4 linked regions of the Homo sapiens genome follow. The protein of the gene in region 1 interacts with the protein of each later gene in a pairwise test. Each region holds a gene or a part of one and is shown in the gene's direction. Other genes may lie near its edges.

What was found. Proteins that work in one complex are often made in the same cells at the same time.
Region 2: the proteins of ZDHHC15 (region 1) and GOLGA7B interact in binary tests that used the Homo sapiens proteins (3 or more experiments, as listed by UniProt).
Region 3: the proteins of ZDHHC15 (region 1) and CERCAM interact in binary tests that used the Homo sapiens proteins (3 or more experiments, as listed by UniProt).
Region 4: the proteins of ZDHHC15 (region 1) and CELA2B interact in binary tests that used the Homo sapiens proteins (3 or more experiments, as listed by UniProt).

The regions. Positions count from the first base shown.
Region 1 is NC_000023.11:75,367,927-75,370,482, reverse strand, and holds the end of ZDHHC15 (palmitoyltransferase ZDHHC15), read left to right. Parts: 3' UTR 1-2,056; downstream 2,057-2,556. UniProt on the Homo sapiens protein: Palmitoyltransferase that catalyzes the addition of palmitate onto various protein substrates.
Region 2 is NC_000010.11:97,852,843-97,856,342, forward strand, and holds part of GOLGA7B (golgin subfamily A member 7B), read left to right. Parts: intron 1-3,500.
Region 3 is NC_000009.12:128,423,857-128,427,356, forward strand, and holds part of CERCAM (inactive glycosyltransferase 25 family member 3 isoform a precursor), read left to right. Parts: intron 1-281; coding exon 282-416; intron 417-553; coding exon 554-758; intron 759-3,500. UniProt on the Homo sapiens protein: Probable cell adhesion protein involved in leukocyte transmigration across the blood-brain barrier. Does not express any beta-galactosyltransferase activity in vitro.
Region 4 is NC_000001.11:15,489,000-15,491,895, forward strand, and holds the end of CELA2B (chymotrypsin-like elastase family member 2B preproprotein), read left to right. Parts: intron 1-2,295; coding exon 2,296-2,313; 3' UTR 2,314-2,396; downstream 2,397-2,896. UniProt on the Homo sapiens protein: Acts upon elastin.

The DNA.
Region 1 (2,556 bases):
AGAAAACCTATTCCTATCTTAGCATTTTGGTCTCATTGGTTTATAGACTCTGATAATATCCCTATCCATGGATCATTTGAGTATTGACTAATGTACATAGGTACCCAACTGGTTGATTATTAATCAAGAATACAGAACTTTATTTAATAATTAGCACACCCTGATCTGGCTTCTTTGCTTGCTTTTCTTTGGATCCCTGTCCAATAACCTCTGTGGAATCTCATTCCCTAATTGTTGATACTCATTTTCTCCGTTTGCAAAATGAAGATACTCATTGTTAGGATCCTACTGCTGAAGGGTGCTATGTCACTTTCTAGTGCTCTTATATGTCTTTAATTATAGGACTGGAATGAAAAGCTTAACCATACAGTATTTCTAAGCAAAATAATGTACTCCATTCTTTTGTCCATGCTCTCATTGCTGATTTGTTCTTGCAGGACTTAGAGCACTTTGTTAATGTTCTTCCATTCACTCCAACAGCGTCCTCAGAAAGAGACAGAATAAAAAAATTGTTCCCCATGGTACAGCTGGAAAAATTAAGGGGAAAAGAGATTAAGTGGTCCCCAATGGAACACAGCTGTCTTATGCAGGGCTCACAGTTACCATGTTCAGTACATTGTTAAAGTAACTTGGCTTCCCAGGACTGGAATTATCATGGAGCAGTTAGAATTTTGAGAGTAATTACAACAGGATCACATTCTGAAAGAGTCACATTTTGTCAAAAATCTGAAAAGTATGCAATTTGTACAACTCTTACTTTCTATGTGATAAGAATGCAATATGTGCCTCTTTCCCCTACTAGCCCCATGTGACACATATTTTTCACACTATGTGGCATCAACCAGTGCCATTACCTCCTGTGGCACCATAGAGCCCAATCTCAGGGCAGACATTGCCAAGGTAAAGAATGCACTCCATGTTTATACCAAATTGCACAAAGTATAGACATTGAGGTTAATGGAGATTTAAGCACAATCCTAGCAAGTAAGTTTTAAGAATACTGAATATTATACATTATTGTAACATGAACCTAAAATTAATTTAACAGGGCCCAAATTCATAGGAATGTAACAGTCATTGAAAGCCTATTCTTTTCACCTCTCATCACACATATCTACATACATGTATGCACATGTACACACACACACACACACACACACACACACATACACATTTTCTCCAAAGCAGGCTGCCTCTTCAGCAGGAGCAAATACTTTAATTTAAAAGAATGATTATCTGTTTTCTCCTTTTAGAAAAAGAGTCTAAGAAACACAGCATGTGAAGAACATTAGATTTATACATTCCAGAATCTCTGCTCTCAGAGTAGCTAAGAGATTCGGTACAGAAGACGTTCTATGGAGAAGCACAGGGGGCATCTAATGAGATTGTCAGGCCCTTGGACAAGATCCATATTCTTAGAAAATTAATGAGTTCCATCTCGTTAGGAATTGGTTGATGAGGTATGGTACATCTGCATTTCTTTAACCATAGCTGTAATGTACCATATTAAATTGTAGCCTTTTGCATGCGGGTATTATATAATAATGAATGGGTGGCTCCTAGTAGCATGCAACCCATGACTGTTTACTTCCCTAAAAGGGTTAGGTCTGTGTCCTGCACAGTGTTCAAAACCATTAAATGTGTTCTTTGTAGCAGGATGGTACACAGCCATCAGCAGAATGAGTTAAAACCAACAATGAATTCAATATACCAGGAAATAGATTGTTAGTAGGGAATGGCATTAAAGGAAAAAAAAATTAGATAAGATGCATTCAAGGAATAATTACTTTCACTCTGCTGGCTTAATCAGTGAAGGAACATAAAAGGAAAGCTGGCAGTGGGTCTTGGTAATATATGAACTATATTAGAGTGCCAGAAAAGGAGACCTCAGAAGTTAAGCATAGGTTGCCAATCTGCTACAATTATTTTTCCCACCAATCTGCTCAAAATGATTGTATATAGTATTCTTAAAACCATGTGTCTTGGTGCAGAAATATTGACAAATGCTGGCCAGCTTTATCTTCCTATATCCTTCATTAAAAGTATATGCATATAATTGTTGGTTTTTTTTCCTAAATTGTGGCTTTGTTAAACAATGTTGACAAACCCTAAAGTTTCAGACTACTCTAAGGAAGTTTCTATACATCTAATTTCATAGGGGTATAGTGATGTTTGTTCACTCAGGTTGATTGGTATGCGTGGTATGTAGACTTCTCTGTAACATCTCACCTTCTGAACAGCCCCTTCCATGTGTTCGGTATTTCTGTCTTATGTTCCTACATGAATATGAATTGGGAAATTAGCTGCAATGGCTTTTAGATAGAAAGCTGACCAGTCTAGTGACACTTAATCACATTCAGTCTCTACTCAGCCTCACACATCTTTTGCCTTTCACTCTGCCATTGTGATGAAAGGAAAAAGAAAGAACTTTTCTTATGTGCCTAAGGGTGAAGTGAACTCTGGTTTGCTTTTTCTTACACTGAAGGCTATGTGTACTATTCTCCAGATGCATGTCACCTGAAAAAAGATACATAGAGGGGAACAACAGACACTGGG
Region 2 (3,500 bases), on another chromosome or scaffold:
GAGGGATGGAGCCTCCTGAGTGATACACTGACCTCATTTGGAGAGCTGCAATGAGCCCATTTTCTGAGCAGCAAACCTCTGTGAATGTGTGTCACTGGGAGCAGGGTCTGCCCTGGGAAATAGTCCAGATGGCCAAGGACAACTGGGAAGTGCCTGGCTGGGAGGGGCTTCTCCAAGTGGTGGGGTTTGGTCTCTAAGAGATTTTTAAATGCATCCAAGTAGCGTTATTCAAGCAGGGTGTTTGGAGGTTTGATCTTTGAGGCATGGAATTAATGATGAGTAGACAACTGGGTCAGGCTTGAGCACTGGTACAGGCTGAGAAGAAGGGAGGTCTTGTGGCTGGTGTTTTATCCTTAGGCCTGACCTGGCTGTCTGTGACTCATGATCCTCACTCCTCCTTCACACCCCAGCCAGGAAGCAGAGTGCTGGCATCAGCGGAACCTCCTAATTCTCGATGCCTCACATGCATCCTATGGAATGAGATGGTTTTTAATGAGGATGAAGATGGCGCCAGGGGGGCACTCCTGTTGGACTTGGGCAGACTGGACCAGGAGCTCATTTGCACTCTAGAGCTTGTTCCTCTGCACCCCAGCTAGTTGACTGTCAGGTGAACAGGAGCCAAATGTGTGACCTGTGGTACCCACTCTCCAGGCAGACTCCCCCTCCTTCTCATACTGCAGTTTGAAAATTGGTACCCATGGGTCTCACCACTGATTTTCTTCCTTATGAAATGCTTCTCGGCCCTGTCTTCACTCTGCTGCCAGTGAGCCAGGGGTGGCAATGGGAGAGAGGGGCAGGGTTGAGGAAGGTGAGAAGTGGAGAGAGGCTCAGGTCTCTGGGTCAGTTAAGAACCCCCTGGGAGACACCCAGGGGAAACACAGAAACTGCAGCTTCAGAGAGAGTTGTGCACATATTTTGATATCCTCTGGTAGGATTTCAGAGCATCACGGATCTCTGCTGAAAACCCCACCAGCTTTCTGAAAACTTAGTAGCTGGCCAGTGGCCTGGAGCCTGGCTTAGCTCTTGCCCAAGGGGCCCCAGCCATGGGATTCTTTATTTAGAGGTCTTAAACTAGCAGCTCTAGAAATGAGTCTGGTCCATGGGTGTGCCTTACTTAGTCTGTTGAGTGCTTATACATTTTAAAAATGTATTGGAAATATTCAAAAATCAGAATATTTGATGTTAAAAAGATCTAGATTTCTGGCTTCTTTTGAGACACCAGAAGTGCTGGCAACCTGGGTATACATTCCCACGTGGCAATAGTCATCTGTCTCCTTGAGATGGGGCACCAGTTTTCTAATTAGCCCCAGGCCCCACCTGGCCCACTTATTGCTCAGCCCCTGTAAACATTTGCATTCATAATCCCTGATAAAGCCTCTAGAATGTCAGAGATGAAAGGGGCTTGAGCAATGATGTAGTTCCAGTTTCTTAGTTTCCAGTTGAAGAAATGGAGGTGCAGAGAAGGGAAGACTTTCCCAGGGCCATGTGGCCCAGGGTCAGGTCTCCTGCCCCCAGGTCAGTGGGCCATCTTTCCACTAGGGCTTCCTGGCACTTCACACTCAAGCCACCATGAATGGAGAAAACCAGGAGACCCTGCCTTGCCTTAAATCCGGCTCTTCACCAACTTCAGATGAGTCTGTAATATATGTACTCTATGTAGGTCTGGGAGACTAAGGCTCTGCCATATAAAATGTGTCTGATATCATCCTTTAGCAACTCCTCAGAGTTGCTCCTCCACAAACACTCTCCAGGGAGAGAAGCAGATCTCTGGTCACCCAGAGCCTGGATAGTAGTCTAAGGCTCAGGATATTGTTGGTGCTGAAAAGGGTGTTGACTTATCCTACTCTGGCTACTTGAGAACCTGTGGATCAAAGCCAAGAGGAAATGGGAATTTATTATGTAAGGTAGCACCCCCAAATCTTAATGTATTAATAGCTTAATACAATAGAAGTTTGTATCCTGCTCAGTGAAGTTCCAGGTAAGTGTTCCTGATCAACAGGTATTCCAGGCGGTGATTCAAGGCAGTGATTCAGTGATTCAGGGACCAAGGCTCTTCCCAACTTGTGGTGTCACTATCTTCAACACAGGGCTCCACCAGCCTCCATGAAAGGGGAAAGAGCAGGGAGAAATGGTACATCTTTATGAATCAAGCCTACACATGGCATTCGTCACTTCCTCTCACATTCTACTCAGTCATAGGGACACACCTAACTGCAAGGGAGGCTGGGAATTAATATAGCTGTATGCCTAGGAGGAAGAAGAAATGGCTTGGGTCAGTAGCTAGCCAGTCGCTAGAGACACACGCCTTCAGGACAGCACACAAATATGTGTGTACACATGTGTGCATTCAGGCACAGATTTAACACAATCCCTATCAAATTAGCAACATCGTTTTTCACAGTATTGGAAAAAACAATGCTAAAAAAAGAAAAAACAATGCTAAAGTTCACATGGAACCAAAAGAGAACCTGAATAGCCAAAGCAATCCTATGCAAAGAACAAATCCAGAGGCATCACATTGCCTGACGTCAAATTATACTACAAGGCTATAGTAACCAAAACAGCAGGTTTTGTATGGGTCAGAGGACAGGAAGCTGAGTCCATATCAGAATGGTTTCTTCCCTTTCTTTCCATTCTCACCACTGCTTTTCTCACCACCTCTTTAGTTTTTTCCATGGACTATTAGAAAGAGAATCATCCCTCCAACTGGCCCCTCACCCCAGTCTTGTCCACTTCCCACAAAACTGCTAGAATGAGCCTTCTAGGGGTAGGGGAGTCCATCCTCAAGATTGACTGACTTTCATAAGTTGGTTTTAGAGGGGCAGAGGAAGGCCATAGCCTTGTTCTTTACTCTTGAAAATACAACATTATAAAACCTTAACCAGAGCAGACATGTTAACAATTAACTTATTTATATTACCAAAGCATTCCTTATTTCTCCGAGTTATCATAGGTTCCTAGTAGATATCAAGGGGATTTCCTCAATGAAAACCTTGATTAGAGGAATCAACTCATATAAGCCTACAGGAGGGCTTATACATTATTTAATCCAGTCACAATACTTTGAGATCACATTTCGTACATACAGCAAGGTCCACCTGGATTTAGGAAAGTCACATATAGTGTTTTTGGATTCCCACCTTTTCAGGACCTTGATCTACCAATTATCTGCTCCTTCTACTTTATTGATAACCTTTCCTAGTTATTTATTATTTCCCAAGATTTTTGTTTGTTTTTAAATTTTATTTTATTTTAGATTCAGGGAGTACATGTGCATGTTTGTTACATGGGTATATTGCATATTGGTGGAGATTGGGCTTCTAGTGTACCCATCACCCAAGTAGTGAACATTGTACCCGATGGGTAATTTTTTAACCCTCACCCCCTCCCCTCTTTTGGAATCCCCAGTGTCTATTATTTTCATCTTCATATCCATGTGTACCTCTTGTTTAGCTTAGATTTATAAGTGAGAAAGTGTGTTTTGTGGTATTTGGTTTTCT
Region 3 (3,500 bases), on another chromosome or scaffold:
AGAGCTCAGAGTAGGTGTTTGGATCCATTTTCTAAGCCAGATCCCAGATAAAGGTCTTAGATCAGTAACTCAGGTATAATCTCTGGACCCAGTCCCTGAGTCAGTGCCCCAGACTAGAGCCTTGGTCCAGAAACAGATGTACTGAGTTTGTGAGACCTCTGTAAGAGCATTCCCACTGGATCCTAGGAGCCACGCTGGGTCTCTGGCAGGACCACTCAGTGAACTCCTTGGGGGGCTGCAGCCCAGGCAGGGCTGGAGCCTGTGACGTCCCCTCCTCAAAGTTTGCAGACACAGACAACATTCTGACCAACAATCAGACTCTGCGGCTTCTCATGGGGCAGGGGCTTCCAGTGGTGGCCCCAATGCTGGACTCCCAGACCTACTACTCCAACTTCTGGTGTGGGATCACCCCCCAGGTGAGGCCGGGATGGGGGCCTTGGGTGGACTGAGGTCCTGGAAGGAGGGACGTGGAGAGCAGAGAGCCTGAGGCCTTGGGGTCTGTGGGCAGGGGCAGGGGAGCCCTCTCACAGCCCAAAGCATCCCTTTTCCCCAGGGCTACTACCGCCGCACAGCCGAGTACTTCCCCACCAAGAACCGCCAGCGCCGGGGCTGCTTCCGTGTCCCCATGGTCCACTCCACCTTCCTTGCATCCCTGCGGGCTGAAGGGGCAGACCAGCTTGCTTTCTACCCGCCACATCCCAACTACACTTGGCCTTTCGACGACATCATCGTCTTCGCCTATGCCTGCCAGGCTGCTGGTGAGGACCAGCCCTCCTTTAGCATTCCTTGGAGGCCTCTGCACATTTGCACATGCTATTCCAGCTGCTTACCATGCCCTTCCCTACTCTGCATTTCATCCTGTTAACCCATGAGTTACAACTTTGGGTCATGAGTTTTCTTTTCTCTCTCTTTTTTTTTTTTTTTGGTGTGATCTCGGCTCACTGCAAACTCTGCCTCCCGGGTTCAAATGATTTCCTGCCTCAGCTTCCCGAGTAGCTGGGATTACAGGCACCCGCCACCACACCCAGCTAATTTTTGTATTTTTAGTAGAGACGGGGTTTTGCCATGTTGGTCAGGCTGGTCTCAAAACTCCTGAGCTCAGGTGATCCACCCGCCTCGGCCTCCCAAAGTACTGGCATTACAGGTGTGAGCCACCCGCCCAGCCAGTGGTTACTTTTAAGATGAAAGGTTTTTTGTTGTTGTTGTTGTTGTTGTTTTTGGGACAGAGTCTCACTCTGTCGCCCAGGCTGGAGTGCAGTGGCCGATCTTGGCTCACTGCAAGCTCCGCCTCCCGGGTTCAAGCCATTCTCCTGCCTCAGCCTCCCGAGTAGCTGGGACTACAGGCGCCCACCACCACGCCCGGCTAATTTTTGTATTTGTAGTAGAGATGGGGTTTCACCGTGTTAACCAGGATGGTCTCGATCTCCTGACCTCGTGATCTGCCCGCCTCGGCCTCCCAAAGTGCTGGGATTACAGGCGTGAGCCACCGCGCCCAGCCAAGATGAAAGTTACTAGAAAGAGTTTGGGTATGGCCAGGCAAGGTGACTCAGACCCTAATCTCAAAGTCTTGGGAAGCTGAGGCTGGAGGGGAAATCACTTGAGCTCAGGAGTTCGAGACCAGCCTGGACAACATAGCAAGACCTCATCTCTTTTCTGCCCTTTTTTTTTTTTTGAGATGGAGTTTTGCTCTTGTTGCCCAGGCTGGAGTGCAATGGCGTGATCTTGGCTCACTGCAACCTCTGCCTTCCGGGTTCAAGCAGTTCTCCTGCCTCAGCCTCCCGAGTAGCTGGGATTACAGGCATGCACTGCCACGCCTGGGTAATTTTGTGTTTTTAGTAGAGACGGGGTTTCTCCGTGTTGGTCAGCCTCGTCTCGAACTCCTGACCTCAGGTGATCTGCCCGCCTCAGCCTCCCAAAGTGCTGAGATTACAGGCATGGGCCACTGAGCCCAGCCCAGCCTTTTTTTTTTTTTTTTTTTTTTGAGACGGAGTCTTGCTCTGTGGCTCCCAGGCTAGAGTGCAGTGGCACAATCTCAGCTCACTACAGTGTTGACCTCCCCCACCTCAGCCTCCCACGTAGCTGGGACCACAGGTGCACACCACCATGCCCAGCTAATTTTTGTATTTTTTGTAGAGATGGGGTTTTGCCGTGTTGCCCAGGCTGGTCTTGAACTCCTGGGCTCAAGTGATCTGCCCCCGCAGCCTCCCAAAGTGCTACAATTACAGGCGTGAGCCACCGCCCCCGGCTGCGAGATCCCATCTCTACAAAAAAATTTAAAAATTAACTTGGCGTGTTGGCCCACGCCTGTAGTCCCAGCTTCCTGGGAGGCTGAGGCAGGAGGATCGCTTGAGCCCAGGAGGTAGAGACTGCAGTAAACTGTGATCATGCCACTGTACTCCACCTTGGGCAACACAAGATGAGACCCTGTCTGAAAAAAAACAGAGAGTAAGAAAGTGTTTGGGTTTGGATGGAATAAATCCAGTCCTGGCCAGGTGCGGTGGCTCACGCCTGTAATCTAAGCACTTTGGGAGGCCGAGGCAGGTGGATCACGAGGTCAAGAGATTGAGACCATCTTAAGACGGTGAAACCCCGTCTCTACTAAAAATACGAAAAATTAGCCAGGCATGGTGGCGGGTGCCTATAGTCCCAGCTACTCGGGAGGCTGAGGCAGGAGAATGGTGTGAACGCAGGAGGCAGAGCTTGCAGTGAGCCGAGATCGCGCCACTGCACTCCAGCCTGGGCGACAGAGCGAGACTCTGTCTTAAAAAAAAAAAAAAATCCAGTCCTGAGGATGAGAGGGAGGGGTGGAGACACTGATGTTGGAGTGAAGCTCTTGAGAAGGCTGCAGAGAATATGTAATTCCGACCCTGAAGACTATCTGGTGCATGGAGAAGAACTTTGCAGGTGCTCAGGGTAAATTAGAGGTGACGATTTAATCAAGTAATCAGTGGCAGCCGGTAAGGAGGATGTTGTAATTCTTTGTTTTGTGCTGGAGAAGTCTGCAGTGTGCAGACATGCAAGAAGAAATCTTACCAAGTGCAAAAAGTGAGTGAAGGTGAAACAATTGGAGGGGAAAACACAAGAGGAAACAAAAGCATTCTGTTATTTTTAATTTGCTAGCCCTACTTCAAGCGACAGCCGTTGTTAATTGGTCAATGGTTTGAAGGAATTCAGTCTCTAACAGCCAGATACTACATCCCGGCTCTGGGCCAGGCTCTGTGCTCAATGCTGGGAATAGGGTTAGCTTTTATTTGTTTTTTGTTTGTTTTTTTTTAAGACAGAGCTTTGTTCTGTCGCCTAGGCTGGAGTGCAGTGGCGCGATTTTGGCTCACTGCAACCTCTGCCTCCCGGGTTCAAGTGATTCTCCTGCCTCAGCCTCCTAAGTAGATGGGATTACGGGCGGCCACCACCACAGCCGGTTAATTTTTGTATTTTTAGTAGAGATGGGGTTTCACCATGTTGGCCAGGCTGGTCTTGAACTCCTGACCTCAAATGATCTG
Region 4 (2,896 bases), on another chromosome or scaffold:
TATCTAAATTGGGAAAAACCCATCTGAGTCCACCTTTGGAGGCACCACGCACGTCAAAGGAGCCTGGCCTGAGACTGACTGGACGAAAGGCTGCTTAGGGGCCTTTCCCAGCCAAATCCTAAGACCGTTTTCCAGCCCCAGCTGCTGTGGGAGTCACCGTGCAGCTGGTCCTGGCAGCATCCTGGGGACCTGAAGCAGGGGCAGGGGCAATTGTCCCGATCTGTTGTCCCAGCATCAGCTGTTCCCAGCATCAGCTGTTCCCAGCCACAGACACAAGCACAACAGAACAGGCCAGATCCCAAAGCATGGCCAGATGGCAGCAGGGATCCACGGGGCAGCACGCCTCCCGAGGCAGCTGGGCAGAGGCCCTGTGTTCATGGGAGAGCAGTCGGGACAGGCACAGATGCCCGGTAACGGGTTTCAGAAGGGGGAGAGCCAAGCAACCAGCTGTCCTTGGGTGGGGGCTGCCCCTGGCAGCGGCAGAGGGGCTAGTGAAACCTTGAAGTGGCCCCAACCCAGGGACACAGTGTGTGCAGCCTGGAGTCACGTACCACTAGAGCCCTGGGGGTGACTGAGAGCACCTGCCTGGATAAACCCAGACAGGTGACAAGCCAAGGTCAGGAAGTACAAGCAAAAGATAAGAGCAGAGAAGCAGAGGAGACAAGTGGCCTGCGGCATTCATCCTTTCAACAAATGTCAGTTGAATGACAGTCACACATGAACTCCAGCAATCCTTAGTTTTTATTCTTTTTCCAGAAGGTAATACATACTCTTTGTAAAAATATTAAAAGAATACAGGAGAGTATCAAGTAAAAAAGTAGAAGTCCCCCCTCATTTTACATCTCCAATTCCACTCTCCAGAGGTAATCATTGTTTTTGTTTTGTTTTTTTTCAAATGGAGTCTCGCTCTGTTGCACAGGCTGGAGTACAGTGGCTTGATCTCAGCTCACTGCAACCTGCGCCTCCCGGGTTCAAGCAATTCTCCTGCCTCAGCCTCCTAACTAGCTGGGATTACAGGCATGCACCACCATGCCCAACTAATTTTTGTATTTTTAGTAGAGATGGGGTTTCACCATGTTGGCCAGGCTGGTCTCAAACTCCTGACCTCAGGTGATCTGCCCACCTCAGCCTCCCAATGTGCTGGGATTACAAGCGTGAGCCACTTCGCCCTGCCAATCATTGTTAAAAGCTTGGTGTGTGGTCTTCTCAACTTTATGTGCATATCTATCTATCTATCTATCTATCTATCTATCTATCTATATACACACACACACACATAGACACTGTCTTCTAAGCAAAAACTAGGATCTGAGTCTTCATACTGTTCTGCAGCTATTTTTCACTTAACACCTTATCACATTTTACATGTCAGTACATACATGTCATTCTTTTGAACAGCTAAATAGTATTCCATAGTTTGAGTGTAATGAATGCAGCTTTCATGTTTCCTATTTTTCACTCTTACATTGTGCAATGAACATCCTTGGACATAATTCTTGCACACTTGAGTATTTGTGCTGTAGCAGCTGGATATCCTGCCGTTTACAGCACTGGATCATGAAGTTGGCATATCAAAATGTTTAACAGGCTGGGCGCGGTGGCTCACGCCTGTAATCCGAGCACTTTGGGAAGCCGAGACGGGTAGATCACTTGAGGTCAGCAGTTCGAGACCAGCCTGGCCAACATGGTGAAACCCTGTCTCTACTAAAAATGCAAAAAAATCAGCCAGGCATGGTGGTGCACACCTGTAATATCAGCTACTCGGGAGGCTAAGGCAGGAGAATCGCTTGAACCTGGGAGGCAGAGGTTGCAGTGAGCCTAGAATATGCCACTGTACTCGTCTGGGCAACAGAGCAAGACTGTCTCAAAAAAAAAAAAAAAAAGTTTAACAGATACTGATCAACAGCCTCTGGAAACAGTTATAGCCCCAACCACAGTGCATAACTGCCTTGCAAACAGCAGTTTTGATGAGAAACAAATGAAATCTAAAAATATGCCATCCGCACATTTGGCATATAATTTTTAGGGGGTTCGAAGGCCCCCTGACCTGAAGCCCACACAGGACTCCTGGCTAAGACCCCCTTTACAGGAAGACCCTAACAGGTCAATGAAAAGCTGTGATTGCATCTTTTTCTCCGAAACATCATCTGAACTCCTCAGGCAGGAGCTACTGTAGTGTGGGCTGCCTGTGACTCACTTGAGTAGCTTAGCCCAGGAGGACAGAGACAGGAAACTGCCACGCACAGCTCTGTGGTTACGTGAACCTGACAATTTTCTTGTGTGTGTGTCCTGCAGGTGATTGCAAATAACTAACCAAAAGAAGTCCCTGGGACTGTTTCAGACTTGGAAAGGTCACAGAAGGAAAATAATATTATATAAAGTGACAACTATGCAAATCACATCTTGATGAGGGTTTTATTATTATTATTAATTCAGAAATCCATCCTAACATCCAGGGCCCTAAGAACCAGAAATAGGTCAGGCGCAATGGCTCAAGCCTGTAACCCCTGCACTTTGGGAGGCTAAGGCAGGCTGATCGCTTGAGTCCAGGAGTTCAAGACCAGCCTGAGTAACATGGCATAACTCTGTCTCTACTAAAAATACAAAAATTAACTGGGAGAGGTGGTGCACACCTGTAGTCCAAGCTACTCAGGTGGCTGAGGTGGAAGGATCTCTTGAGCCCAGGAGGTCGAGACTGCAATAAGCCAAGATTGCGTCATTGCACTCCAGCCTGGGCGACAGAGTGAGACCCTATCTCCAAAAAAAAAGGCCCAAAAAACAAGAAATAGGCTGGCATAAGGACAGCTTAAAAGACCTCAGGGTGGAGCCTTGTGGGGAAGCCCAGCGTGTCACTATTGCACAGCACGTTCACACTGCAGTCCGGGGGTGCTTCAGC